Regions from separate parts of the Homo sapiens genome. Here region 2 is linked to region 1. The links come from fine-mapping of genetic effects on plasma protein levels. A gene starts in region 1. The other region holds a variant in brackets. All regions are shown on one strand. Distances are between the middles of the regions. Region 1 holds the start of IL1RAP (interleukin 1 receptor accessory protein). Region 2 overlaps IL1RAP (interleukin 1 receptor accessory protein).

Region 1 (3,030 bases):
TGAGCAGGTGCTGGGTCCCAGGTATCCTGAGATAAATAAAAATTTTGAGCAATTAATTTTCATAAGTGATGTCAAGAAGTAAAGTATCATGAACATTTCTATGGCTCCAATTACACTGATATTTCACCTTAGGAACTGAAGCTCCGCCAGGGCAGGGGCAGCCTCTGAGTTTCGTACTGCTGTGCACCTTTAGCAGCACGGGCACCTGCTGGTTTCATTTCCTTCCCACTCACCTGGGCCCTTTTCTTATTTCACATCTTTTTTCTCCTTTTCCTTAAATGCTTTCTCTGAATCTTGATTCTTGAAAATAAATTAGTAGGATTCAGTTAGGTAGGAGGAGGAGAAAAGAAGATGTGATGAGCAAGAAGATGTGCGAAGACTCGTCAGTCTGGTAGGTGGCTTTGGTTAGGGGGTTTCAGAAATGGGGACAGGTCATGAAGGGCCTTGCCAGTCAGGAAAAATCATGAGGCACTAGCAGTAGGAACACAGCAGAAGGTGCCTGAACAAGAGAGATGACTTAATGAAAGCCTTTATAACGCTTCCCGGGATATATTACAGACTACCATCTACAGTGGCAGAGGGCAGCTGAAGGAAGGCTCTTGCAAAAACTTGGGGAAATGGAAATGAATGAAGGCAAATATTTGTTTTGAGATTATTTCCTTCTATGTAACCTATTAGTTCTTTTATTCGTTCCCCATACATGTATTGAGTGCCTACTTTGTGCCAGGCACTGTGCTAGGCAATGGGTATATTACCAGTGGACAATACAGATTTAGTCTTGCTGTCATGTCCTGTTGCTTGCTCATATGAATGTCAGTTCAAGACAGCAAGAGCTCAGGACTGCGGAGATCGCATCTACATCCTGCCGCGCTCTGTGCCGGCACAGGGTGGTTGCGAAAATCGTGCAGTCTGAATTGATTCAAGGCCTTGCAGCATGATTGCTAAATACGTCGAGACAGGAAGAAAGGGCAGGGTGGCACCGATCTCAACTGCGAGAGCACGATCTTGCAATGAGCGCATGTGTGCGCCTCGGTGTGTAGTGAGGGGCGTAGCTTCCCACAGCGCCTGGCAGCGTGCCGAGCTGCGCTGCAGGACTAACCCTCTCCTTTCCCCGCGCGCTCAAGCCCGCACAGGCGGTGGCAGGGAGCCGAAGGGGCCGAGCGCAGCCTTGCATCCGTCCGCAGGCGGGCCCGGCGCCGCGCCTCCTGGCGGCGGGCGGGACCGTCCAGGACGCCGCCCCGCGGCCGCAGCTCCTGGAAGCCCAGAGCGCCGGTGGATCGCGAGCCAAGGCGGCGGGTGGAGCCTGAGCCGTGAGGCCGTGGCCAATCGCGCCGCTCCGGGGGAGGAGCCCCAAAGGGGGAAAAGAAAGTGCGGCGGAAAGTAAGAGGCTCACTGGGGAAGACTGCCGGGATCCAGGTCTCCGGGGTCCGCTTTGGCCAGAGGCGCGGAAGGAAGCAGTGCCCGGCGACACTGCACCCATCCCGGCTGCTTTTGCTGCGCCCTCTCAGCTTCCCAAGAAAGGTGAGTCTCGCGCCGCCGTGAGGGCTCAGAAGTCACCAAGCCGCAGAATCTCAGGGTAGACGGATTCTTAGAGATCCTATCGTTAAACCCTCCTACTTTACAGAAGAGGAAACTGAGGCACAGAACGAGGCAGCGGCTGGGATAGGTCATACTGCTAGTTAGGACTGGAGCCCGGATTCGAACCCAAACGTTCAGAGACCCATCTTTGCTTTGCAGGGATTTAAGTAACGCGGTTGTGGGACGTCTGCTCGTTGCCGCCCCCATCCTCAGCCCTTTGAGGGGTCTACCCTTGTTTTCCTCCTCACCGCCCCCTCCCCGCTACCACCCCCCGCCCCCATCTCCTCCTTGGTTTCTCCAGACCGCTGCTGGAAGCGCCGAGGACAGAAGGAAGCGGTGTGTCCCAGCACGCCCACTCGGTATCACGTCGCTCTCAGCGCAGAGCTGTGACAGCCTGGGAAAATGCTGCTTGCAGCCTCACTCCCTCTTCCCCTGACCTGCTTTCTCAGAAAGATGCCCCTTCAGAGGGTGTCGGACCAGCTTCTGGAGGAGCGCGGGGAGAGAGGAGCGAGGCCCGGGCGCCAGTGACCTCCTATGGTACTGTTTCTTCCCAGCCCCGGAGGAAGCGGAGCTAGTGGCCCTGTGGGGCACAGGGTGCCCCTCACTTGGGAAGAGCTGACTTCATGGAACCATAGAGCCCCTTCCCTCTTCTAAATACTGAGAGGGAGCAAGGAAGCTGAGTTAAAGAGAAAATCACAAACATAAAAGCAAACTTCGGCTGTTTCCTTTAAGAGCTAGCCCACAGCCTGTCTTCCCTCCACCTTCTGGTTGTGAAATTGTGAACCAGGGCGCCACGCGAAGCATTCTGCTGCTCTGCTGTACAGATCCCTGGTTTAGCTACTGGATGAGAAAGAGGACTTGAGTTTTGACTCCAGCTCTTCCATGTATTAGCAGTGTGAACTTGGGCAAGTTATCTCACCTTTCCGATACTGGGTTTTTCTTTTCTTTCTTTCTTCCTTTTTTTTTTTTCCAGCCAAAAAATGGAGATTTATAATGGTCACAATGAGCCCTTTGGGTAGTTGGAAGGATGAAATGGGATCATTCAAGTAGCATGTTTAGCACAGTGCCTGGCCTGGCATCTGGTTGGTTCAAAACCAATGGCAACTATTGTAAATATTGTTACATAGTAACCTTGCAGACAGTGGGTTTTCAGAAAGGTGATTTCATACCATCTTACAGAGGCATTTTAAAAAAATCTGTAAATGTGGTGTCTTTCTTCTTTTGAATTTGAGCAACTCTTTTATAATAAGAATTTTCTGAATGTTGTCCATATGTGATGTGGATCATGGATGCTTAGCTCGAAATGTAAAATTGATGTTTCTCGGTGATATGAATTTCCTACTAGTTTTTAGGTCAAACCTCAGGCCTGTGAACTGCCCTGATCTGAGACATCCTTTATTGACAAAGAGGGTCTTGAAATGGGTGAGAGGCAGAAAGACAAGAAGACAAAGT
Region 2 (2,500 bases), 120 kb after region 1:
TACTCAGTGTTCATAGGATAGCAGTGGCGTTAAGCTTAAGCAAAACCAATCAGAGCCCTTAACCAAATTCTCATACCTGACAGTAAGCCTAGTTAAAAAGAGAACCTAGATGGCAGTCAGCTGTAGCAGAGAGATTTTTCTCTGCGATAAGTAAAGGAGTTCAAAGGGATTTTAAATTCTGATCTTGGACCCAAAACACTTGATCTCTGATTCACTGAGAGTTGGATATATTTATTTTTACAAAGTTTACGTGTTCATAACAGCTTTCTCTTTTTATATGTTAGGATTTAACCATGAGATTTCAGATTTCTGACCACAGTATTCTAGCTGTGTTCAGAATCCATGCTTTGGGAATCACTGAAATGCATCAGCTATTCCTATGGGATAACAGTAATACCTACATGAATATTTATTAAGCATTATTCTAATATTCATGCCTTAGCATATTCAGTCCTCAGAATTCCTGAATAAATTAATGCATGTAATGCACTGTGTGGGCATTATGACTTCCCTCTTTTCCAAAAGAGGAACCTGAGACCTGGAAAGATTAGTTATCTCACCCAAAGTATATAGCCAGGAATTGACAAATCCTGGATAAAAACCCAAAAGGACCTGGCCCCAGAAGCTTCTCTCTAAACTGATACAGCATCCTGGCTCAGAAGTTTAAGCAAAAGAGACATTTTGTTTTGAAGAGAGATCTATAAAAAGAAGCCAGTATTGGGATTTGGTCTAGACAATGGGATAGTGTGTAGCGTAGATGGTATAGTATAGTGTTAGAATCTTACCATTAATACTTTGTAATCACTGCATTATAGGTGGCTCAGCTTATCAACCTTCCTCGCCCTCACCTGTAGTGGGGGTCTGTGGTTGCTTACTTGTCTGATTCCTACACAGTCCATAGCTCTTGAGTCACTCTCAAATGCTTTGATTTTCTTCTCTCTATTTCTAGTATAAGTCATAGTAGAACAGAAGATGAAACAAGAACTCAGATTTTGAGCATCAAGAAAGTTACCTCTGAGGATCTCAAGCGCAGCTATGTCTGTCATGCTAGAAGTGCCAAAGGCGAAGTTGCCAAAGCAGCCAAGGTGAAGCAGAAAGGTAATAGATGCGGTCAGTGATGAATCTCTCAGCTCCAAATTAACATTGTGGTGAATAAGGACAAAAGGAGAGATTGAGAACAAGAGAGCTCCAGCACCTAGCCCGACGGCATCTAACCCATAGTAATGAATCAAACTTAAATGAAAAATATGAAAGTTTTCATCTATGTAAGATACTCAAAATATTGTTTCTGATATTGTTAGTACCGTAATGCCCAAATGTAGCTAAAAAAATCGACGTGAGTACAGTGAGACACAATTTTGTGTCTGTACAATTATGAAAAATTAAAAACAAAGAAAATATTCAAAGCTACCAAAGATAGAAAAAACTGGTAGAGCCACATATTGTTGGTGAATTATTAAGACCCTTTTAAAAATCATTCATGGTAGACTTCAAGAGTCATAAAAAAGATTGCATCATCTGACCTAAGACTTTCGGAATTTT[T/C]CCTGAACAAATAACAGAAAGGGAATTATATACCTTTTAATATTATTAGAAGCATTATCTGTAGTTGTAAAACATTATTAATAGCAGCCATCCAATTGTATGCAACTAATTAAGGTATTGAATGTTTATTTTCCAAAAATGCATAATTATAATATTATTTTAAACACTATGTATCAATATTTAAGCAGGTTTATAATATACCAGCAGCCACAATTGCTAAAATGAAAATCATTTAAATTATGATTTTAAATGGTATAAACATGATTTCTATGTTGATAGTACTATATTATTCTACAATAAATGGAAATTATAAAGCCTTCTTGTCAGAAGTGCTGCTCCTAAATCAGACTGTGTCTAAAACTTTCTTTGTGTCTCTCACCTAACACAGAATCCCAGAAAATCCCTTCAAGGATGTTTTCAATGGTCTTGAGAAAAGTAATGATGAGTTATCACACATGAAATCATGAAATCAGGTCATTCAGAATCCTCCTGGCTCCTAGTCTATAGAGTGTGTAATATTTCTTCAAAAGTGAATAACATAGCACATAATTGTTACATTTTACAGAGACTTAATGCTTTTTTAAAGCTGATGAAAAACAGGATTCACCTCAAACTTTCATTACAACTTTAAAACTAAATAGCAAAGGCCTGAAATGTATATGCTGCGTATGAAGTACTAGTGAATCAGTTCAGGGTAATTCATTGCTTCTGCTCCTCAGAAGCCAGTGTGAAAAGGAAAGACTGAAGTACATGATGTAAGGCAGTTTCCCAAATTGAGTTCTCGGGAACACTACTAAGAATCAGTATTGTCCTGCAATGCATTATTGTACTCTAGAATCAGAGCACCTGTGTTGAAATTCTGGTTTCTGCACATCCTAACTCTGTGAAAAGTAAATCTCTCTGAGCCTTAATTTCCTTATATTTAAAGTAGACACAATAATACCACTACCTTATAAGG

Evidence for each region. PIP is the chance, under the fine-mapping model, that this variant and not a neighbour inherited with it causes the effect. Sun 2018 read protein levels with aptamers (SomaScan).
Region 2: its variant is fine-mapped to the plasma level of the IL1RAP protein (Sun 2018, PIP 0.95).

What each region holds. Positions count from the first base shown.
Region 1 is chr3:190,512,699-190,515,728 of GRCh38, forward strand. IL1RAP (interleukin 1 receptor accessory protein) reads left to right here and starts at 1,387. Exons shown (of 12, transcript NM_002182.4): 1 at 1,387-1,521. RefSeq lists enhancers at 734-823, 1,576-2,077, 2,078-2,577 and a silencer at 974-1,323.
Region 2 is chr3:190,628,401-190,630,900 of GRCh38, forward strand. IL1RAP (interleukin 1 receptor accessory protein) reads left to right here. Exons shown (of 12, transcript NM_002182.4): 9 at 950-1,098. Among named protein-coding and RNA genes, the nearest start is that of LINC02013, 70 kb to the right of the region's middle. The variant T/C (reference allele first, on the strand shown) is at 1,543.